Homo sapiens: one gene and its partners. The protein of the gene in region 1 purifies or fractionates together with the protein of each later gene. This does not show direct contact. Each region holds a gene or a part of one and is shown in the gene's direction. Other genes may lie near its edges. The genes, in order: FBXO11, RBX1, SYNPO, NDRG2, LONP1, TXN and CEP72.

What was found.
Region 2: the proteins of FBXO11 (region 1) and RBX1 purify together in Homo sapiens (co-immunoprecipitation; 4 studies listed by BioGRID and IntAct, with this or other methods). This does not show direct contact.
Region 3: the proteins of FBXO11 (region 1) and SYNPO purify together in Homo sapiens (co-immunoprecipitation; one large-scale study listed by IntAct). This does not show direct contact.
Region 4: the proteins of FBXO11 (region 1) and NDRG2 purify together in Homo sapiens (affinity purification with western blotting; one study listed by BioGRID). This does not show direct contact.
Region 5: the proteins of FBXO11 (region 1) and LONP1 purify together in Homo sapiens (co-immunoprecipitation; 2 studies listed by BioGRID and IntAct, with this or other methods). This does not show direct contact.
Region 6: the proteins of FBXO11 (region 1) and TXN purify together in Homo sapiens (affinity purification with mass spectrometry; 2 studies listed by BioGRID and IntAct, with this or other methods). This does not show direct contact.
Region 7: the proteins of FBXO11 (region 1) and CEP72 purify together in Homo sapiens (co-immunoprecipitation; one large-scale study listed by IntAct). This does not show direct contact.

Annotation. Positions count from the first base shown.
Region 1 is NC_000002.12:47,836,999-47,840,498, reverse strand, and holds part of FBXO11 (F-box only protein 11), read left to right. Parts: intron 1-729; coding exon 730-857; intron 858-998; coding exon 999-1,080; intron 1,081-1,495; coding exon 1,496-1,640; intron 1,641-3,500. UniProt on the Homo sapiens protein: Substrate recognition component of a SCF (SKP1-CUL1-F-box protein) E3 ubiquitin-protein ligase complex which mediates the ubiquitination and subsequent proteasomal degradation of target proteins, such as DTL/CDT2, BCL6, SNAI1 and PRDM1/BLIMP1.
Region 2 is NC_000022.11:40,968,378-40,971,093, forward strand, and holds part of RBX1 (E3 ubiquitin-protein ligase RBX1), read left to right. Parts: intron 1-2,716. UniProt on the Homo sapiens protein: E3 ubiquitin ligase component of multiple cullin-RING-based E3 ubiquitin-protein ligase (CRLs) complexes which mediate the ubiquitination and subsequent proteasomal degradation of target proteins, including proteins involved in cell cycle progression, signal transduction, transcription and transcription-coupled nucleotide excision repair.
Region 3 is NC_000005.10:150,643,660-150,647,159, forward strand, and holds part of SYNPO (synaptopodin), read left to right. Parts: intron 1-3,500. UniProt on the Homo sapiens protein: Actin-associated protein that may play a role in modulating actin-based shape and motility of dendritic spines and renal podocyte foot processes.
Region 4 is NC_000014.9:21,016,272-21,019,166, reverse strand, and holds the end of NDRG2 (protein NDRG2), read left to right. Parts: intron 1-6; coding exon 7-51; intron 52-352; coding exon 353-404; intron 405-503; coding exon of another isoform or gene 504-540; intron 541-645; coding exon of another isoform or gene 646-662; coding exon 663-710; intron 711-927; coding exon 928-963; intron 964-1,128; coding exon 1,129-1,180; intron 1,181-1,404; coding exon 1,405-1,571; 3' UTR 1,572-2,395; downstream 2,396-2,895. UniProt on the Homo sapiens protein: Contributes to the regulation of the Wnt signaling pathway. Down-regulates CTNNB1-mediated transcriptional activation of target genes, such as CCND1, and may thereby act as tumor suppressor. May be involved in dendritic cell and neuron differentiation.
Region 5 is NC_000019.10:5,693,741-5,696,146, reverse strand, and holds part of LONP1 (lon protease homolog, mitochondrial isoform 1 precursor), read left to right. Parts: coding exon 1-93; intron 94-1,245; coding exon 1,246-1,386; intron 1,387-1,594; coding exon 1,595-1,760; intron 1,761-2,377; coding exon 2,378-2,406. UniProt on the Homo sapiens protein: ATP-dependent serine protease that mediates the selective degradation of misfolded, unassembled or oxidatively damaged polypeptides as well as certain short-lived regulatory proteins in the mitochondrial matrix.
Region 6 is NC_000009.12:110,246,508-110,250,007, reverse strand, and holds part of TXN (thioredoxin), read left to right. Parts: intron 1-3,500. UniProt on the Homo sapiens protein: Participates in various redox reactions through the reversible oxidation of its active center dithiol to a disulfide and catalyzes dithiol-disulfide exchange reactions.
Region 7 is NC_000005.10:629,340-632,839, forward strand, and holds part of CEP72 (centrosomal protein of 72 kDa), read left to right. Parts: intron 1-3,500. UniProt on the Homo sapiens protein: Involved in the recruitment of key centrosomal proteins to the centrosome.

The DNA of each region.
Region 1 (3,500 bases):
AGCCTGGGTGACAGAATGAGACCCTATCTCCAAAAAAAAAAAAAAAAGATGTTCATACACCAGACTACCCTCTGACACCCTTTTTAACCTACCTGGTATCTCATGCACTATATTGAGCCGTTCCTCTTCATAGACACACTCCTTGCCAAGCTGCCTTCACCATATATGGTCTCTAACCATGTAGTACCAGTTCCCTTCCCACTCCTCTCAGCAAGTGGATATCCTCCTCACCTTTTTTTAAAAAAAAGTCTTCCACGGCTGGGCGTGGTGGCTCACGCCTGTAATCCCAGCACTTTGGGAGGCCGAGGTGAGTGGATCACGAGGTCAGGAGATCAAGACCATCCTGGCTACCACGATGAAACCCCATCTTTACTAAAAATACAAAAAATTAGCTGGGCGTGGTGGCGGGCGCCTGTAGTCCCAGCTACTCGGGAGGCTGAGGCAGGAGAAAGGCGTGAACCCAGGAGGCGGAGCTTGCAGTGAGCCGAGATTGCGCCACTGCACTCCAGCCTGGGCGACAGAGCGAGACTCTGTCTCAAAAAAAAAAAAAATCTTCCACATTTTATAGAAATCTAACATTTCTTTCATATAGCTATCCAGTTGGTTGGAATTTCATATAAAACTTACATCTGCTCCCTCCCGAATTTGAAGTTTTAAGAAAGTTTTCTGTATCCATAGAACTTTTTTTAAAAAGGGTATAATTTTTCTTATTGCTTTTGTTTATAACAGATGATGATGTGCCTGCAGATATGGTTGCAGAAGAATCAGGTCCTGGTGCACAAAATAGTCCATACCAACTTCGTAGAAAAACTCTTTTGCCGAAAAGAACAGCGTGTCCCACAAAGAACAGTATGGAGGTAACTTTAACTGTAGTTGCTTTTCTTTTTGTAATGAAAGAATTTTCAAGAAACAAAAAAGGGAATGTCATCCTTTTTTAGAAGTAATGATTATGGATGATAAGAATATTTGCTTTACTAGTTTCTGTTTTGTTTTTGAAGGGCGCCTCAACTTCAACTACAGAAAACTTTGGTCATCGTGCAAAACGTGCAAGAGTGTCTGGAAAATCACAAGATCTATCAGGTATTTCCTGTGGGAAAGTAACAAATAGGGTAAAATAATTTTTTTTAATTTTGCTTGATACCAAAAAATGAAAATTAAGTGTATTCGAGTATTACCTTTGGGATTCAGAAAGTGATTATTACAGAATAAACTTTAGAACCCTGACCTCTCCCTCTGACTTTTATTGTTGTATAAAAATGCTTTTTATGTATTTATTTTAACCATTTCTGAGATGGCACATAATACCTAAAAGAAGGAGTACTTTTGTTAGTTCAGGATAGAGATAAATATGTGTTACCCATGAAACCCACATGCTTATAAAATGACCATTATCCAAAAAAAAAAAGCTATTCATTAGATAAAATGAAAACTGTGTTCTTTAAATAATGAGAAAGTTATTGCTCGAATGATAGTTTATATGTTAATCTCTTTATAGCAGCACCTGCTGAACAGTATCTTCAGGAGAAACTGCCAGATGAAGTGGTTCTAAAAATCTTCTCTTACTTGCTGGAACAGGATCTTTGTAGAGCAGCTTGTGTATGTAAACGCTTCAGTGAACTTGCTAATGATCCAATTTTGTGGTAAGTAAAAACCTATTCCTTATTAACTTGAGATATGTTATTTGTTGCCCAAAATGCTAAACATGGTAGGAAAGTCGGTGCGGTGAGTTGGTAGTTACAATTAGTTGGAACAAAATTAAAATGCTTATCAATTCCAAGTTACAAATGGGGGCTGTCAGTCCAGGTGGTATTTATAAATCAGTAAATGAAGTCTTTTATCTGCTGTTTATCAGTTAATAGCAACTGATTGATTATGGGAAATGTTTTTCTTTTAGTAGCTTTTTAGAAACATAACAGTGTAATTTAAAATAGCTAATGAATTTTAAATCTGATAGATTAGAATGTAGGTTTTATATATCACTTTTGGAAAACAGTTGTATTCATGAATCTTTAAATAATTCATGCCCTTTGACCCAGTAATTACTGGGTCATGCCCTTTGACCCAGTAATTCTACTTCTGAAAAGTTTTTTTTGCTTTATGTACAGATTTTTCGTAACAGCCTAGTTAATAATGAGAAAAATTATAAATAATCTAAATATCCAGAATTAAGGGAATGAACTACATAAACTGTGTAATGTGTACTTGGAGAGTTGTGATATAACCACTAATAGTAATTTTTACAAAGAGATTTTCATTTGTTTTTTGAGAGACAGGGTCTTGCTCTGTCACCCAGGCTGGAGTGCAGTGTCACGCTCCTAGCTCACTGCAGCCTCAACCCTCTGGGCTCAAGCCATTCTCCCACCTCAGCCTCCTGAGTAGCTGGCACCACAGGCATGTGTCACCATGCCCAGCTAATTTTTTTTTTTTTTTTTTTTTTGAGACAAAGGGTCTCACTCTGTTACTCAGTCTGATCTTGAACTCCTGGGGTCAAGTGATCCTTCTACCTCGGCCGCCCAAAGTGCTGGGATTATAGGCATGAGCCATTGCACCCAGCCCAGGTTTTTAATAAGATGAAAAAAATGCTGTTATAAAAAGTGAAAAGAGGCCAGGTGTGGTGGCTCCTGCCTGTGGTCCCAGCTACTCCGGAGGCTGAGGCAGGAGGATCATTTGAGCCCAGGAAGTCAAGGCTGCAGAAAGCCGTGATCGTGCCACTGCACTGCAGCCTGGGCGGCAGACGGAGACCCTGTTTTTTAAAGAAAAGAACAGAGTACAAAATTGTATATGCTATATAATCACAACTATAATAAATGATCTGTAGATAAAATGAGTGGAAGCAAATATGGCAGACTGTTAATAGTTAATATATTGAAACTATAGTTCTTTACACTTCTTTGTTTTACAACGGTTATATGTATTACTTTTATGATGCACAAAAGGTGCACCATATATATATATGTTTTTGTTGTTGTTTTTGACGGAGTTTCGTTCTTGTTGCCCAGGCTAGAGTGCAGTGGCACAATCTTGACTCACTGCAACCTCTGCCTCCCGGGTTCAAGCAATTCTCCTGCCTCAGCCTCCTGAGTAGCTGGGATTACAGGCACCTCCCACCATGCCCAGCTATTTTTTGTATTTTTAGTAGAGACAGGGTTTCACCATGTTGGCTAGGCTGGTCTTGAACTCCTGACCTCAGGTGATCCTCCTGCCTGGGCCTCCCAAAGTGCTGGGATTACAGGCATGGGCCACTGTGCCCGGCCCACACCTTACATTTAAGAGAAAAATTACAAAGGAGAAATGAGAATGAAGAGCAGCAGAACAAAACAGCATTGCTCACTGTACCAGAAATGATAATAGTTAGCCATTACTCCAGTTTGAAGATTTCATTGTGCTTGATAGGATATAAATGGACTGAAGATATAGGACAAATTAAGTTCAAAGTATTTTTACTGAAAATTATCTTTTTAGGCTAGGCGAAGTGGCTCACGCCTATAATCCCAGCACTT
Region 2 (2,716 bases), on another chromosome or scaffold:
ACCGTGCCCGGCAGGTTTCCCAACCTTCTACGGTCTGTGAAAGTAGAAAATGTGATAATCTATGAACTCTTAAATATTTCCAGAATTACATCCTAATGAGGCTCCATGGACTACCTAATGTCAGGTAGCTTTGGGCTAGACTTGTATCCACTTATCATATTTCACTGGTTTATTTCACAGTGATTAATTCTGATATAGCATTTATGGCTATCCTGATTAGATTTTATTGTTATATAAATAAAACATGACCTGGTAAACTTTTAAAAATTTAAATGGTTGAAAGGGTATACCACAGAATATGAATTTCCCACTGTAGGCCCCTGCTCCGGCTTGCTGGAGCTAGCCATCAGCAACAGGACAGCTTCTTAGGAGATTTTCTGACTATCTCTTATATGTCCCGGTATTTACATGGTTGTGTGTATATATATATTTTTGTTAACATAAAAGTGAGTATCCTATACAGTAATTCACCTTTTTTTTTTTTTTCATTTTGTACATTTTGGAGATTTTCCATTTCCACAAATAACAAACTACCTCATTTCTAATGGTTGCAGAGTATTTCTTTATGTAAATGTACCTTAACTTTTTTCTTTTCTTTTTTTATTTGTTTGCATGTTTTTAACATTTTTTATATTTTTTAAAAAGTCAGTCCCTGGCCAGGCACGGTGGCTCACGCCTGTAATCCCAGCACTTTGGGAGGCCGAGGCAGGCGGATCACCTGAGGTTGGGTGTTCAAGGCCAGCCTGGCCAACATGGAGAAACCCCGTCTCTACTAAAAATGCAAAATCAGCTGGGCGTGGGGGCACATACCTGTAATCCCAGCTACTTGGGAGGCTGAGGCAGGAGAATACTTGAACCCAGGAGGCGGAGATTGTGGTGGGCTGAGATCGCACCATCGCACTCCAACAAGAGCGAAACTCCATCTCAAAAAACAAAGTCAGTCCCTATTGGTGGACATTTGTGTTTCCAGTTTTTCACTGATGCAAGCAATGTGAAGGGAGAAACATCCTTATACATGAAGCTTTGTGTAAATGTGTAGCTGTATCTGGAGCAGTAATTCCTAAAAGAGGAATTTATGGGTAAAGAGTATGGCTGGGCTTGGTGGCTCACACCTGTGATCCCAACACTTTAGGAGGCCAAGGTGGGCAGATTGCTTGAGTCCACTAGTTCGAGACCAGCCTGGTAACATGTTGAAACCCCATCTCTACCAAAAAATAGTAAATTAGGCCATGCCTGATGGCTCATGCCTGTAATCCCAGCACTTTGGCAGGTTGAGGCAGGTGGATCATTTGAGGTCAGGAGTTTGAGACCAGCCTGGCCCACATGGTAAAACCCCGTCTCTACTTTAAAAAATACAAAAATTAGCTGGGCGGTAGTGGTGCATGCCTGGAATCCCAGTTACTCCAGAGGCTGAGGCAGGAGAATCACTTGAGCCTGGGAGGCAGAGGTTGCAGTGAGCAGAGATCGTGCCACTGCACTCCAGTCTAAATGACAGAGTGAGACCCTATCTCAAAAAAAAAAAAAAGAAAGAAAATTAGCTGGATGTGGTGCCATGCACTTGTAGTCCCAGCTGCTCTGGAGGCTGAGGTGGGAGGATCGCTTGAGCCCAGGAGGCGGAGGTTGCAGTAAGCTGAGATCATGCCACTGCACTCCAGCCTAGGTAATAGACCCAATTTAAAAAAAAAAAAAAAAAAAAGCCCAGGTGTAGTTGCTCACACCTGTCATCCTAGCACTTTAGGAGGCTGAGGTGGGTGGATCACCTGAGGTCAGGAGTTCAAGACCAGCCTGGCCAACATGGTGAAACCCCCTCTCTACTAAAAATACAAAAATTAGCCAGGCATGGTGGTGCCTATAATCCCAGCTATTTGGGAGGCTGAGGCAGGAGAATCATCTCTTGAACCCGGGAGCCCAGAGGTTTCAGTGAGCTGAGATCACGCCACATCAGCCGGGGCAAAAGAGCAAAACTTCGTCTCAAAAAAAAAAAAAAAGGAATGTATATTTTTGTTTTTGATAAATAGTGTCAGGTTTTCCATTTCTAAGAATACACACTAATTTATACTCCCTCCAAACAGTGAAGCAGAACTCCCCTTTCTTCATTTCCTGCCAGTGCTTCATTATACAGTTTTTCCATCTTAGCCACTCTGATAGGTGACAATCAGTATTCGATTTTCATTTTTGAATTTTCAGTAAGATTGGGCAATTGTTCATGTTTTTATATCTCTTACGCTTTTCTGTGAACTGCTGTGTTTATCTTCCTGCACGTTGCTTTATTTTGAATTATTGGTCATTTTCTTTACTGAATTTTTTACGGGAAAGGAGTTTCTTAATTTAAATACGTCTTTATTAGGCTATTCTTGGGTTTAAAAAAACCAAAAAATAGGATTCTTTTGTTTGTGAAATGTTTAGAAATCCATTATTGGTGCAGTGATTTTGCCTTTAAATTCAATAATTTATTTTGGTAAAACATTTGGAAGTCTTATCAATGCGTATTCAGTTTTTAAGAAACCTGCCAAATACTCAGTATCTGAGTGGTACTGTTGGGCTCCCTTCAGCAAAATATATGCTAAGTACCGTGTAAAATATAAAAACATTTGAGACGGTCCTTCCTGCCCTTGGAGCTTGCATTCTACAGGGAACCATAACAGGAATACATGTCAAGGCAGAGGACTTTTCATAGTTTTCAGGGGGCCTTTGTAATTGGCTCTGCCCTACAGCA
Region 3 (3,500 bases), on another chromosome or scaffold:
AAGTAGCTGGGATTACAGGCGCCCGCCACCACGCTTGGCTAATTTTTGTATTTTTAGTAGAGATGGGGTTTCACCATATTGGCCAGGCTGGTCTCGAACTCCTGACCTCGTGATCCACCTGCCTTGGCCCCCCAAAATGCTAGGATTACAGGCGCGAGCCACCGCGCCCGGCTGAGAAGACTTTTTCTCTGTGCAGCCTGGGGAGGCAGAACCACATCAAGAAAGCGGATGATGGCTGGACGTGGTGGCTCACGCCTGTAATCCCAGCACTTTGGGAGGCTGAGGTGGGTGGATCACTTGAGCTCAGGAGTTCAAGATCAGCCTGGGCAACATAGTGAAATCCTGTCTCTACAAAAAATACAAAAATTAGCCAGGCATAGTGGCATATGCCTATAGTCCCAGTTACTCAGGAGGCTGAGGTGGGAGGATTACTTGATCCTGGAAGGTTGAGGCTACAGTGAACCATGATGGTGCCACTGCCCTCCAGCGACAGAGCAAGACCCTGTCTCAGAAAAAAAAAAAAAAAAAAGTGATTGGAAGTGAATGTAAGGAGGAACTTTCTAGCTGAGGAATGTTAATTAGTGGAAGACACCTCCCGGGGGAGTGAGCTCGTCACCTGAGTATGTCAGCAGAGACTTGCACACTCAGCATGTTGTTTTGAAGATGCAAGAATTGTGTGGGAATTGGACTTGGTGACAGCCACCTCTGAGATTCCGAGGTTCTGTGTTTTGGGGCAGTAAGCTCTGCCTCCGTGTAGCTCTGGAATCTCCTGCTATTTGACCTTCAGTCAATCCCCTGTGCTAGAAGAGTATCTGACCTTTTCCAGGGAGTGGAATGGGGTGACCAATTGCCAGCTTATGCCAGGATAGCATGAGCCCTCTGTCTGTCCACCTGGGCTTCATGGCAGTCAGGCCTTGGCATTTTCATGATCTCTTTGTGGCCTCCCAACACTCATGTCAAGTTAAGGAGACTGTGGCTCTGAGAGGTACAGTAACTTGCCAAGGTCACACGGCTAGCAAATGGCAGAGCTTGGATTCAGGCCAGGAGGCCTGGTTTCTAAGCAGAGCAGGGGAGACAGACACAGCATGAGCTGAGCAACCTCTCAGAGCCCTCCAGTGTGGCTGGCACCCCATCCCTTAGGCTCCTCCCAGGGGAGCAGCCTGGCTAATAGATGGCTAATAGACATCTTTAATAGATAGGGTGATCCAGGCAGGAGAAGAGTCCTACTCGGGGGGAGTAATATCATGGGTGGGTGGGATAGGCTGTGTGCTTTCACTGTTTCTAATAGGTTAGGGGAAAACCAGGTTCGATGGAGGAGGGAAGAAGGAGGTTGGGGCCAGAAAACCTGTGGCTGCCCCAGTGGAGCTGCTGTGACGCTGCTGGTCACAGCTTCTTTGCTCTGTGTGGGCCTCCCTGCGGGTCCCATGTGGGGTCACCCGGCTCTACCCTGGGCTACTCTCTGGATCTCTGTTTCCCACCTATAAAACAGGGTGGTGATGAAATACCTCCTCTGTCAGAATTCTTCCAGCTCTGAGAGTCCATGAATTCAGAGCCTCGCTGGCAAGATGCCTGGAAAGACTGTCCCTGGAGACAGACTCAGCATGCCATGGCCAGTGCTAATGAGGGCAAGGGAGGGGAGGGCAGGGTCAGATTCCTCAAGAACTAATTAGCTTCCCACAGTAGGGAGGAGAGGGGCAATGGAGGGAGGAATTTTCTTAGCCACTGATGTTGCTGGTCACAGGCTGATCCATCCACCTGTCTGTCAATGCATTTGTTCATGCAGCATTTGTTCATTTATTATTCAACAATTATAAATTGAGCATCAACTGTGTGCCAGCTGGCCACTGGGGATAGAAAGAGAAATGGTTGCCTATGGTGATCTTATAGATTAATAGGGGACTGAACTCAGCCTGATCTCAGGACCTCAAATCCCAGACTGAACCCCGACCCATGATGACCTTGTTCCTGCCCCTTATGTCCCAAAGAGACCTTTTGGGATGAGTAGACCACTTGAGCATGGACTAGAGACCCCAGAAAGAACAGTTCTGACTCCAGCTTTGTCACCCTTGGCTTTGCAACCTTGGGGCAGTTCCTTATATATCTCTGAACCTCCGTTTCTTCTTCTGTAAAACACAGGCAAGCAATGCTTGTCTCATTGTGGTCTTGTGCAGATAAAATAAAAGAATGCAATGTTCTACAGTAGTCATTGGTGAAACTAGCTCAATTTGTTACTTTTCTAGTGTTAAAAGATGTGAATTTTAAAATGAGTATTTAAGTAAAACTAGGAAGAAATCCTGGGAGGAGATAGAAGAAACTGATTGTGATACAGAGTAATCAGGGATGGGGTGACACTTTTTACTGTATACCTTTTTATGTTTTAATTTTTAGGGCCAGGTATAGTGGCTCATGCCTATAATCTCAGCATTTTAGGAAGCCAAGGCCAGAGTATCACTTGGGCCCAGGAGTTTGAGACCAGCCTGGGCAACACAGGGAGACCCCTTCTCTACAAAAAATACAAAAAAAAAAAAAAATTGGCTAAGTGTGGTGGCGCACACCGATAGTCCAGATATTTGGGAGGCCGAGGTGGGAGGATGACTTGAGCCCAGGAGGTTGAGGCTGCAGTGAGCTATGATGGTGCCACTGCATGCCAGCCTGGGCAACAGAGCAAGACCCTGTCTCAGAAAAGTAAAAATAAAATAAAAATGAATGAATAAATAAATTTTTAGACTATGTGAATGTATTACCTACCCTAAAAAGGGGAAATATTAGTGGCGTCTCTTTATAAAATCAAAGCACATGCCTGTAATCCCAGCACTTTGAGAGACTGAGGTGGGCGGATCACTTGCGCCCACCTGAGTTTGAGACCAGCCTAAGCAACATGGTGAAACCCTGTCTCTACAAAAAAAAATACAAAAATTAGCTGAGCATGGTGGCATACATCTGTAGTCCCAGCTACTTGGGGAGCTGAGGCAGGAGAATCACTTGATCCCAGGATGTCGAGGCTGCAATGAGCTGAGATCTCATCATTGCACTCCAGCCTGGGTGACAGAGTAAGGTACTGTCTCAAAAAAATAAATAAATACAAATTAAAAAAAGCAGACGGTGGTTTATTAAAACATTTTTGTTTAAAAAAATTAGAGCACATTCCTATGCTATAATTCTGAAAGTATAAAGGGCCCTAAGGAAGGCACACAGAAAATATTCTGGGGGTTCATTTGTGCATTCAGCAATATCTACCGAGTGCCACTGTATGACAGGTGCTGTTCTAGGGGCTGTTGTTAGAGTGATAAACAAGTCAGGTGGCCGGGCACGGTGGCTCACGCCTGTAATCCCAGCACTTTGGGAGGCCGAGGCGGGTGGATCACCTGAGGTCAGGAGTTCGAGACCAGCCTGGCCTACATGGTGAAACCCCATCTCTACTAAAAATACAAAAATTAGCCGGGCATGGTGGCACATGCCTGTAGTCCCAGCTACTCGGGAGGCTGAGGCAGGAGAATCAC
Region 4 (2,895 bases), on another chromosome or scaffold:
TTCTAGCCGCCGAGACCTGAACTTTGAGCGTGGAGGTGATATCACCCTCAGGTAAGACTTTAAGAGATAATGCATTGCCTGTCTCCCTGGATCTTCCCTAGGAGCTTGTGTCCCTTAGAAGAAGGAGAATCTTTTGCCAGGGAACTTCCTTGTCATGTCCCACCCCATCCTATTTGGTAAATCACTTCCCTCTAGGTCTTCCCCCTTTGAATCCTCTTGGTGGCATCAGCAGGGAGACACAGAAGTGTCTTTCCTCTTTGGAGCCAGATATTTTTCCAGCTGCACTCCTAGGCAGAGGCCAGTGAGGGAGTGCCAGGGGCTCACTGCCTTCTCCCCAACACTGTGTCTTTAGGTGTCCTGTGATGCTGGTGGTAGGAGACCAAGCACCTCATGAAGATGCAGTGGTTAGTAGGGAATTTTGGGGTGAGTGAGGGAGGAGGGTTGGGGTCCTAAAGTGGTGGTCAGAAGAGTATCTTGCCAAGGGGATGTCCTGTTTGGCACAGGGAGATCAACTTTGGGGCACTAAGAATTTGATTCCTGGTAAGGAGGAACTGGGTAGGGAGCTGATAGAAAAGGGACTGGGGTCTGGGTTCCTGGGTCCCTTACGGGGGAGGCGCCACAGTGGGCGTGACCTCATTCATTCAGCCTCCTGCTTACTCCAGGTGGAATGTAACTCAAAACTGGACCCCACCCAGACCTCGTTCCTCAAGGTCAGTAACCTGTTCCTGGGCCCCCGTCCACAGTCATATATCCTCTCTACATGCAGCTGCTAAGCCTCCAGGGCCCGGCATGGGAGCAAATGGGGTGAACGAAGAACAAAACAAAGGGGCTAGAGTGAAGAAGCTAGGGAAGAGAGACCCTTTCCACCTCTCTGCATGGCTCATTTATGTGTGTTTCACTTTTTCTGGGTGGTGCTCTCCTGAACAGATGGCTGACTCCGGAGGTCAGCCCCAGCTGACTCAGGTGAGTGCCGCTGCCGTCCATGGGATGGGGAAGGGACATAGGATACCGGTGGCACTGGGCTCTGCCCTTTGCCACACACCCGGCCCCACAGTGCCGCAGCCTCAGGCTCCAGCTCTTCCTCTAACCTCATCTCACCGTCTCCCTCGCCTCTTCTTACTTCCGCAGCCAGGCAAGCTGACCGAGGCCTTCAAGTACTTCCTGCAAGGCATGGGCTACAGTGAGTATCGGGACAAGAGCTTGCTGCACTAGAGGAGAGATAGGCACTGACGGGGTGGAACCGTTTTAGGTGAATGCCTGGACTCACCGCTATCTGCCCAATCGAGCTCGTTGATCCCCTGGCTTAGTTATAACTAGTCCATAATCCAAGGACCACACCCTGAGTCGCCAGCCCCCCTTCCCCACTTCCTCTCTGACTGCTTGTGCATCGTGCTGTCTCCACAGTGGCCTCATCCTGCATGACTCGCCTGTCCCGGTCTCGTACAGCCTCTCTGACCAGTGCAGCATCCGTTGATGGCAACCGGTCCCGCTCTCGCACCCTGTCCCAGAGCAGCGAGTCTGGAACTCTTTCTTCGGGGCCCCCGGGGCACACCATGGAGGTCTCCTGTTGAATGGCCCTTGTTGCCCTAGAGTGGGACCCAGCCCTCACCTCCCCCAGAGCTAACCTGGGAGGTGCTGAAGGGGCATTGGGCCACCGTAAGCAAGGGAAAAAGGGCAGATCATGCGGGGAGATGACCTTGATCTTTGATTGCTACCCTAACCTTGACCTTTAACCCGTGATTCCCCCCAGCTCCTGGAAGAGATGTCCTAATATCTCTTAGGGACCCAGACCCCTAAATTCTCCTCCTCCCCCATTTTGATGTTAAGGTGGAGAGGGCATATGCATCCTCTGTCCTGATCTAGGTGTCTATAGCTGAGGGGTAAGAGGTTGTTGTAGTTGTCCTGGTGCCTCCATCAGACTCTCCCTACTTGTCCCATATTTGCAAGGGGAGGGGATTTGGGGCTGGGGCTCCATTCACCAAAGCTGAGGTGGCTTCTCATTAACCCTTTAGGACTCTGAAGGGTATGGACCTACGTGAATGTGTGTCAGGGGGAGACTTGCTGGTGGGTTAGTGGTCCTCAGGATGTGATAGAAACATCCAGTGTAAAAAGGAAGTTGGAATGGGAGTTGGCGGGCAGTGAACGAGTGTGGGGAAGGATTGGTGCTGGGGCAACAGGAAGGGGCCTGGGGCCGTTTGGCTGCACTAACTTTGGTAGCTCAGTGTGCATCTAGAGTGGGACTGGGGAGGGAGCTAAGCTTGGGCTGGGCTGCTTGGGGCTTGGCATAGGGTGGAAAGGGCTACCCTGGGGCTCTGACCACACTGTAGTATGTGTGGAGGGTGCCCTCCCGTCTCCCACAACTTCTGCTATAACAATAAACTGTAGAGGAATCTGAGTACCGTTATTATTCTTTGTCTAGGTGTGCCTGCATCATGCTCCTCTTCCTATCTTCTCCCTGTCCACGTCTCATATTCTCTTCTCAAAGTGATATAAACCCTGGGAGAGGGCCTTTGTGGCATAGGCACTTCACAAAATATGACCACATAGAAACTGGCTCTTTTCCAATACAACGGTGTTGCCTTGATATTGTAGTATTTTTAAGCCTGGGAGAGAGGAACCATTTAGATCTTAGGAGACTTCCTTATCAACTATGGGTAACTGAGAAAGGCCACAGGATTTCAGAGATACCACCAACATCACCACCTTTAAGAAAGAATTGAAGAGGCTGGGCAAGGTGGCTCGCATCTGTGATCCCAACACACTTGAGAAGCTGAGGTGGGCAGACCACTTGAGCTCAGAAGTTTGTGACCAGCCTGGGGAACATGGTGAAACCCCGTCTCTGCAAAAAATACAAAAATTAGCTGGGCTTGATGGTGCACACCTGTAGTCCCAGCT
Region 5 (2,406 bases), on another chromosome or scaffold:
GTCACGGACACCATCCCCGAGCCGCTGCGAGACCGTATGGAGATGATCAACGTGTCGGGCTACGTGGCCCAGGAGAAGCTGGCCATTGCGGAGGTAAGCCCAGCCCCTCCCCACTGCTGTCCCCTTCCCAGAGCAGGGGGCGCCCCCCAGAGCCTGCAGAGGCCGTGCCTCTGGGAGCTCCTGGGCCCGGGAGAGACAGGTGGGACCTGCGGCCGAGGAGCAGATGGGGCCGTGAGAGACACACCAGACGCTTGCGAGCAGCTGCAGGTGGCGCGAGTGGGCGCAGGGTTTAGGGCCTGGGACTGTCCAAAACACCGCCCACCACCGTCAGGCCACACACTCTGTCTCCCGGGGCCTCCAGGCTGCCCCATGGTGGGGCCCCCACCTGGCCCAGAGTGTAGGGAAGGTTTCTGGCAGCCGGAAGCAGTGGGGCCTGTGGCTCCCACCCAGAATGAGGCTTGGAGGAGAAGTGGTTTCAGTGAGGAGCATGCAGGGGCCCATATTTCTCATGTGTTTTTTTTTCTGCAAAGGTGCTGAGTGCATTTCTCCCCTAGGAGCCCTTTGACAGCCAGTGGTGGGCACTGGTCCCTGCCCTTGAGGCCCTCCCAGCATCCTCGTGTCCCCTGGGGGCTTCAATGCCCACTGCTGGGCCCAGTTCCCAGCCTGACTTCTCCAAGGGACGGGCCTGTAGTTCCTGGGGACAGGACTGGGGGGCATGGGGACCCCTCAGGGCATCAGGAGTGCCCCCCAGTATCAGTGGCAGATGTAGAGTGGCTTGCATGGCTCTGTCCGTCTCACAGATGCCCTCCCCCATGCCATTAGAGCTCAGAACTGTGGCAAGAATTGTGTGGGGCTGTGGGTGACCCTGGAGCCCCTGACCCAGTCCCCTTCCTCATGTGCTGAGGGCAGCAGCCACGTAACCAGTCAGCCACCCTACAGGCCCTGGGTCTGTGTATGGGGCCAGCCCATGGGGCAACCAGGAGGCCTTCCTGGAGGAAGCGGCATCTAAGATACCATTGGGGGATAGGAAGTGGATCCAAGCAGAGGACGCAGCACAAGCAAAGGCCTGGGGCCTCTGGGCATGGTGGGTGGCAGGGCGGGGTGTCCAGGCCCTGGTTTCACCATCAGGGACCTCGTTCCCAGGCCAGGGTCTGGGGGCCATGGGAGAGGCATTGGCTCCCAGGTTCTAGACTGAGCTGGTGGGCAAGGTCCCTCCAGACCCAACCCTGACGGTTGCCCTTGCAGCGCTACCTGGTGCCCCAGGCTCGCGCCCTGTGTGGCTTGGATGAGAGCAAGGCCAAGCTGTCATCGGACGTGCTGACGCTGCTCATCAAGCAGTACTGCCGCGAGAGCGGTGTCCGCAACCTGCAGAAGCAAGTGGAGAAGGTGAGCGGCCAGCCCGCCCTCCTGGCACCTGCCGCCCACCTCACCATCCCACGCTGATCACCCCACCTTTCCATGCCCATCATCCCACTTTCCTGCGCCCATCACCCCACCACCCCGCGCCCGTCACACCTTTCTGTGCCCGTCACCCCACCACCCCGCACCTGTCACCCCACCTTCCCGTGCCCATTGTGTTGCCCTGACCGCCCAGGTGTTACGGAAATCGGCCTACAAGATTGTCAGCGGCGAGGCCGAGTCCGTGGAGGTGACGCCCGAGAACCTGCAGGACTTCGTGGGGAAGCCCGTGTTCACCGTGGAGCGCATGTATGACGTGACACCGCCCGGCGTGGTCATGGGGCTGGCCTGGACCGCAATGGGTGAGCGTGGTGGCGGGAGAAGACCCCAAAGCCATTCCCATTTCTACCCGAGAACAAGCAGGTCCCACCTTGTACACCTGTGCAGTGGGCCTCAGGTGGCTCTGAACGGCCTCTGGCGGGGGGTGGTGTGCTGGGAGCCCAGGGGGTCTGGGCTGAGGGAGGGGAAGGCTGTGACACATGGGGGTGGCAGCACACCATGGGCCTTATGGATTTGGGTGCCACTTTGATAGGCTTACAGGTAAGGACAAGCTCATCCAGATGGGCCTTGGGGCCACCACGCACAAAGGAGGCGAGAGGGCAAAGGGGATGGTGCGGGAGGGGCTGGAGAAGGGCTTGTGTCTGTCTGCAGGGCAGCGGCAGCTGGGCCTTGTAGCCCTGGGCGTGTCCTCTGTGGCTGGCAGCTGCTGGGGGCTGCCCTGTGGGGCGTACAGAGCCAGGAACCCGCAACGCAGCAAACGTAGAGGCCAGCGTTGGCTCACGATGGGACACCAACCCCTGCCCAGGGGCACCAAGATGCTAAACTGGGGCAGGAGCGGTCAGAGTGGCCCCGAGGGGTGGAGTGAGCACCGGCCTGGGCTCCGAGGCCTCCCGTGTTCACAGCTCCACACCTGTTTCAGGAGGCTCCACGCTGTTTGTGGAGACATCC
Region 6 (3,500 bases), on another chromosome or scaffold:
GTTGAGGAGGTATCACTTCGGGGCCCTTTACAGATATGTGAGCATTTTCACTTAGCCCTAGTGGAGAAGGAAAGGCGATGGGGGAAGGGTGCAGTGTGGCAACAGAGGCGCTGGACCTGGCTTCCAGTCCTGGCTCACTAGCATCTGCTTAGGCCAGTCACTCCTCTTCCTTGAGCCTTAAGACCTGCCCCATCAACCTCCCAAGGTTGCTTATTCATTGAGCAAACATGGAATATCCAATAAAGGGTGAAGGGTCACTTAAAACAGGCATATGGCAGTGCTCTCTAAACATGGGAGGGCGCAACAACCCCAGATTGTGTATTCTTAGCCAGTTTTTGACTCTGTGCCTTGGGCAACCCCTGCCTTGGCTTGTGCTGTCTTCTCCATCTGGCCTGTCCTTTCCTTTCCTACCTGACTAACTCCTTGTCATGAGCTTCACCCCTTCTCCACTTACCGCCTTGTGTGCCCTAAGTACCCAGTGAATCTTGGCAATTATTATAATGATCTTTATGTCTGTCCTTTACCATTAGTCTCAGTAGATTCCTAGGATCAGAGACCCTGTCTTAATTCACGTTGGTTGCCCCTTCACCTAGCACACCTGCCTTGCATGTAGTATAGGTGTGGAATGAATGAATGATGAATGTGATATGGTTGTTAAGTTACTATTCTAGATGTGTCCCAGAGTTGTTTTTTTTTTTTTAAAAAGAGTGTAATTGCATTTTTGTGAAAAATCCTTATCCCTTGTTTTAATCAAACTTAGTCTTATTAAGGTCAATTTAGCTAGGGGAAAATTGCACCTGGAATAGAGAAATTCTAACTGCCACTGATCCTATCAGATAGCAACTTGATTTTTTTTTTTTTTTTTTTTTTTTTTTTTTTTTTGAGATGGAGTTCACTCTGTCACCTGGGGTGGAGTGCAGTGGCATGATCTCGGCTCACTGCAACCTCTGCCTCCCGGGTTTAAGCAATCCTCTGTCTCAGCCTCCTGGGTAGCTGGGATTACAGGCATGCACCACCATGCCTGGCTAATTTTGTATTTTTACAAAATTAAAACCCCAGTAGAGACGGGGTTTCACCATGTTGGTCAGGCTGGTCTCGAACTCCTGACTTCAGGTGATCCACCCACCTCGGCCTCCCAAAGTGCTGGGATTATCCACCACGCCCGGCCTTGATTTTTATTTGAAAGCAATAATAGGTGCCAGATGCCATGATAAGCCCTTTGCATGCACTATGTCATTTAATCCTCACGATAACTATACGAGTATTTTTTATTAGCACCCTCATTGAACAGGTAATGGCACTGCAGCACAGAAGGTAAAGTCAGTCTCTTGAGGCAGACCAATGCACCATACTGTACTGAGGACAGGTCTTCTTACTGCCTTTAGGAAGTACAGTCATGCATCACTTAATGATGAGGATACTTTCTGAGAAATGTTAGGCAATTTTGTTGTGCACACATAGAGTGTACTTACACAACCTAGATGGCATAGCCTCCTGTACACCTAGGCTATGTGGTAAAGCCTGTTGCTCCTAGGCCACAAACAGGTAAGGCATGTTACTGTACTGAATACTGTAGGCAGTTATAACACAACAGTAAGTATTTGTGTATCTAAACATAGAAAAGGTATGGTGAAAACATGATATGAAAGATTAAAAAATGGTATGCCTTTATAAGGTACTTGCCATAAACGGGACTTGCAGGACTGAGAGGTGCTCTGGGCGAGTCAGTGAGTGGGTGGTGAGTGAATGTGAAGGCCTAGAACCTGTAGACGTTATAAACACTGTATGCTTACAAATTTTATTTTTAAAATTTCTTTTTTCAGCAATAAATTTATTGTAACTTTTTTACTTTATAGTTTTTTTATTTTTTTAACTCTTTAACTCTTGTAATAACACTTAGCTTAAAACACGAATGCATTGTACAGCTCTACAAAAATATTTTCTTTATATCCTTAGTCTATAAGCTTTTTTTAAAAAGACTTTTTAAACTTTTTGTTACAAACTAAGATTCAAACACATACATTAGCCTAGACCAACACAGGGTCAGGATCATCAGTATCACTGTCTCCCATCCCCACATCTTGTCTCACAGAAAGGTCTTCAGGGACAGTAACATGCATGGACCTTTCATCTCCTATGATAACAGTGCCTTCTCCTGGAATGCTTCCTGAAGGGCCTGCCTGAGCCTGTTGTATAGTAACTGTCTTTTTAAAAAAATAAGTAGGAGTACACTCTAAATTAATAATGAAATTAAAGTAAATACAAAAACCAGTAACGTGGGTGTTTATTATCAAGTAGTATATACTGTCCATAATTGTAGTGATATGCTTTTTTAAGTGAAAGCAAGTTTATTAAGAAAGTAAAGGAACAAAAGAATGGCTATTCCGCAGGTAAAGCAGTCTGTAGTGGTATACTTTGTATGTAATTGCAGCGCAGATTTGTTTGCACCAGCTAATGCGATGGGCTATGACATTAACCCATCACTAGGTGAGAGGAATTTTTCAACTTCATTATAATCTTATGGGACCACCACATATATGCAATCTGTTGTCGATCTAAATGTTATATGGTGCATTACTATAGGTGTGCAAAGCACTCGAGGACTTCCGTATGACAGAGCTCCTCCTTCATGTCTGCTTGGTGCACCCTGATCACCCTGAATGTATCTTTTTTTTTTTTTTTTTTGAGACAGAGTCTCACTCTGTCACCCAGGCTGGAGTGCAGTGGTACCATCTCTGCTCACTGCAACCTCCACCTCCCGGGTTCAAGCGATTCTTCTGCCTCAGCCTCCTGAGTAGCTGGGACTACAGGCAGCCGCTACCACACCAGGCTAAATTTCAACTTTTTAGTAGAGACAGCATTTTGCCATGTTGGCCAGGCTGGTCTCGAACTCCTCACCTCAAGTGATCCACCCGTCTTGGCCTCCCAAAGTGCTGGGATTAGAGGCATGAGCTACCGTGCCTGGCCTGAAAGTGTCTTTTAAAACCTTGAAGTGACCCTCTGACAAACTGAGGAACTTTAACTTTGCCTCCATAGATTGATAGAAAAGTATGAGTAGTAGCCCTTTTGAAAATGATAGACCAACCTTATTTCTCTGACAGCCAACAGGGTTATGATACTTATTTTATAAATGGTAACCTCCCTCTGACCCTTACTTGGAGTGAGTTTTCAATAGTATGCATTCAATAAACATTCACCATTTTTATTCCAGCCATTACTGTCCTTGTGCCTCTTACTGGAACCTGTACTTTCATGCTCAGCAGGTGTCCAGCATTAAAAGAAAAAGTAAAGATTACCTAGAAAGAACTCCTCAACAGTAGTGCCACCCACCATCCTAGAGGTCGTCATAGTGTTTGTAGCTGGCCTTTCTTCCCCTTGAGAATTCTCCGTTGGTTTCCGTGATTTGGTTATCAACAGTCCTGCCTGCTCGCTTGCTGTCCTGTGTAGCTTTTGCTGCTTAGGTGCTGAGTGGTTCTATATTTCTTTCCCAGTCCTCTTTT
Region 7 (3,500 bases), on another chromosome or scaffold:
TAATCACATAGCAGAACAGAATCTTCCAGAACTTTAATTTTTGAACCAATCCTAGTGGGGTTCTGTCCAGTGCCGGGATTTGGACCAGTCCTGGTGGGATTCTGTCCAGTGCCGGGATTTGACCCAGTCCTGGTGGGGTTCTGTCCAGTGCCGGGATTTGGACCAGTCCTGGTGGGGTTCTGTCCAGTGCCGGGATTTGGACCAGTCCTGGTGGGGTTCTGTCCAGTGCCGGGATTTGGCCCAGTCCTGGTGGGGTTCTGTCCAGTGCCGGGATTTGGCCCAGTCCTGGTGGGGTTCTGTCCAGTGCCGGGATTTGACCCAGTCCTGGTGGGGTTCTGTCCAGTGCCGGGATTTGGCCCAGTCCTGGTGGGGTTCTGTCCAGTGCCGGGATTTGACTCAGTCCTGGTGGGGTTCTGTCCAGTGCCGGGATTTGGCCCAGTCCTGGTGGGGTTCTGTCCAGTGCCGGGATTTGGCCCAGTCCTGGTGGGGTTCTGTCCAGCGCCGGGATTTGGCCCAGTCCTGGTGGGGTTCTGTCCAGCGCCGGGATTTGGCCCAGTCCTGGTGGGGTTCTGTCCAGTGTCGGGATTTGACCCAGTCCTGGTGGGGTGCTGTCCAGTGCCGGGATTTAGACCAGTCCTGGTGGGGTTCTGTCCAGTGCTGGGATTTGACCCAGTCCTGGTGGGGTTCTGTCCAGTGTCGGGATTTGACCCAGTCCTGGTGGGGTGCTGTCCAGTGCCGGGATTTAGACCAGTCCTGGTGGGGTTCTGTCCAGTGCTGGGATTTGACCCAGTCCTGGTGGGGTTCTGTCCAGTGCCGGGATTTGGCCCAGTCCTGGTGGGGTTCTGTCCAGCGCCGGGATTTGGCCCAGTCCTGGTGGGGTTCTGTCCAGCGCCGGGATTTGGCCCAGTCCTGGTGGGGTTCTGTCCAGCGCCGGGATTTGGCCCAGTCCTGGTGGGGTTCTGTCCAGTGCCGGGATTTGACCCAGTCCTGGTGGGGTTCTGTCCAGTGCCGGGATTTGGCCCAGTCCTGGTGGGGTTCTGTCCAGTGCCGGGATTTGACCCAAGTCCTGGTGGGGTTCTGTCCAGTGCCGGGATTTGACCCAGTCCTGGTGGGGTTCTGTCCAGTGCCGGGATTTGGCCCAGTCCTGGTGGGGTTCTGTCCAGTGCCGGGATTTGACCCAGTCCTGGTGGGGTTCTGTCCAGTGCCGGGATTTGGCCCAGTCCTGGTGGGGTTCTGTCCAGCGCCGGGATTTGGCCCAGTCCTGGTGGGGTTCTGTCCAGCGCCGGGATTTGGCCCAGTCCTGGTGGGGTTCTGTCCAGTGCCGGGATTTGACCCAGTCCTGGTGGGGTTCTGTCCAGTGCCGGGATTTGGCCCAGTCCTGGTGGGGTTCTGTCCAGTGCCGGGATTTAGACCAGTCCTGGTGGGGTTCTGTCCAGTGCCGGGATTTGACCCAGTCCTGGTGGGGTTCTATCCAGTGCCGGGATTTGGCCCAGTCCTGGTGGGGTTCTGTCCAGTGCCGGGATTTGACCCAGTCCTGGTGGGGTTCTGTCCAGTGCCGGGATTTAGACCAGTCCTGGTGGGGTTCTGTCCAGTGCCGGGATTTGGCCCAGTCCTGGTGGGGTTCTGTCCAGTGCCGGGATTTGACCCAGTCCTGGTGGGGTTCTGTCCAGTGCTGGATTTGACCCAGTCCTGGTGGGGTTCTGTCCAGCGCCGGGATTTGGCCCAGTCCTGGTGGGGTTCTGTCCAGCGCCGGGATTTGGCCCAGTCCTGGTGGGGTTCTGTCCAGCGCCGGGATTTGGCCCAGTCCTGGTGGGGTTCTGTCCAGTGCCGGGATTTGACCCAGTCCTGGTGGGGTTCTGTCCAGTGCCGGGATTTGGCCCAGTCCTGGTGGGGTTCTGTCCAGTGCCGGGATTTAGACCAGTCCTGGTGGGGTTCTGTCCAGTGCCGGGATTTGACCCAGTCCTGGTGGGGTTCTGTCCAGTGCCGGGATTTGGCCCAGTCCTGGTGGGGTTCTATCCAGTGCCGGGATTTGACCCAGTCCTGGTGGGGTTCTGTCCAGCGCCGGGATTTGGCCCAGTCCTGGTGGGGTTCTGTCCAGCGCCGGGATTTGGACCAGTCCTGGTGGGGTTCTGTCCAGCGCCGGGATTTGGACCAGTCCTGGTGGGGTTCTGTCCAGCGCCGGGATTTGGACCAGTCCTGGTGGGGTTCTGTCCAGTGCCGGGATTTGGACCAGTTCTGGTGGGGTTCTGTCCAGTGCCGGGATTTGGACCAGTCCTGGTGGGGTTCTGTCCAGTGCCGGGATTTGGCCCAGTCCTGGTGGGGTTCTGTCCAGTGCCGGGATTTAGACCAGTCCTGGTGGGGTTCTGTCCAGTGCTGGATTTGACCCAGTCCTGGTGGGGTGCTGTCCAGTGCCGGGATTTAGACCAGTCCTGGTGGGGTTCTGTCCAGTGCCGGGATTTGGCCCAGTCCTGGTGGGGTTCTGTCCAGTGCCGGGATTTAGACCAGTCCTGGTGGGGTTCTGTCCAGTGCTGGATTTGACCCAGTCCTGGTGGGGTTCTGTCCAGTGCCGGGATTTGGCCCAGTCCTGGTGGGGTTCTGTCCAGCGCCGGGATTTGGCCCAGTCCTGGTGGGGTTCTGTCCAGCGCCGGGATTTGGCCCAGTCCTGGTGGGGTTCTGTCCAGTGCTGGGATTTGACCCAGTCCTAGTGGGGTTCTGTCCAGTGCCGGGATTTGGCCCAGTCCTGGTGGGGTTCTGTCCAGTGCCGGGATTTAGACCAGTCCTGGTGGGGTTCTGTCCAGCGCCGGGATTTGGCCCAGTCCTGGTGGGGTTCTGTCCAGCGCCGGGATTTGGACCAGTCCTGGTGGGGTTCTGTCCAGTGTCGGGATTTGACCCAGTCCTGGTGGGGTGCTGTCCAGTGCCGGGATTTAGACCAGTCCTGGTGGGGTTCTGTCCAGTGCTGGGATTTGACCCAGTCCTGGTGGGGTTCTGTCCAGTGTCGGGATTTGACCCAGTCCTGGTGGGGTGCTGTCCAGTGCCGGGATTTAGACCAGTCCTGGTGGGGTTCTGTCCAGTGCTGGGATTTGACCCAGTCCTGGTGGGGTTCTGTCCAGTGCCGGGATTTGGCCCAGTCCTGGTGGGGTTCTGTCCAGCGCCGGGATTTGGCCCAGTCCTGGTGGGGTTCTGTCCAGCGCCGGGATTTGGCCCAGTCCTGGTGGGGTTCTGTCCAGTGCCGGGATTTGACCCAGTCCTGGTGGGGTTCTGTCCAGTGCCGGGATTTGGCCCAGTCCTGGTGGGGTTCTGTCCAGTGCCGGGATTTAGACCAGTCCTGGTGGGGTTCTGTCCAGTGCCGGGATTTGACCCAGTCCTGGTGGGGTTCTATCCAGTGCCGGGATTTGGCCCAGTCCTGGTGGGGTTCTATCCAGTGCCGGGATTTGACCCAGTCCTGGTGGGGTTCTGTCCAGCGCCGGGATTTGGCCCAGTCCTGGTGGGGTTCTGTCCAG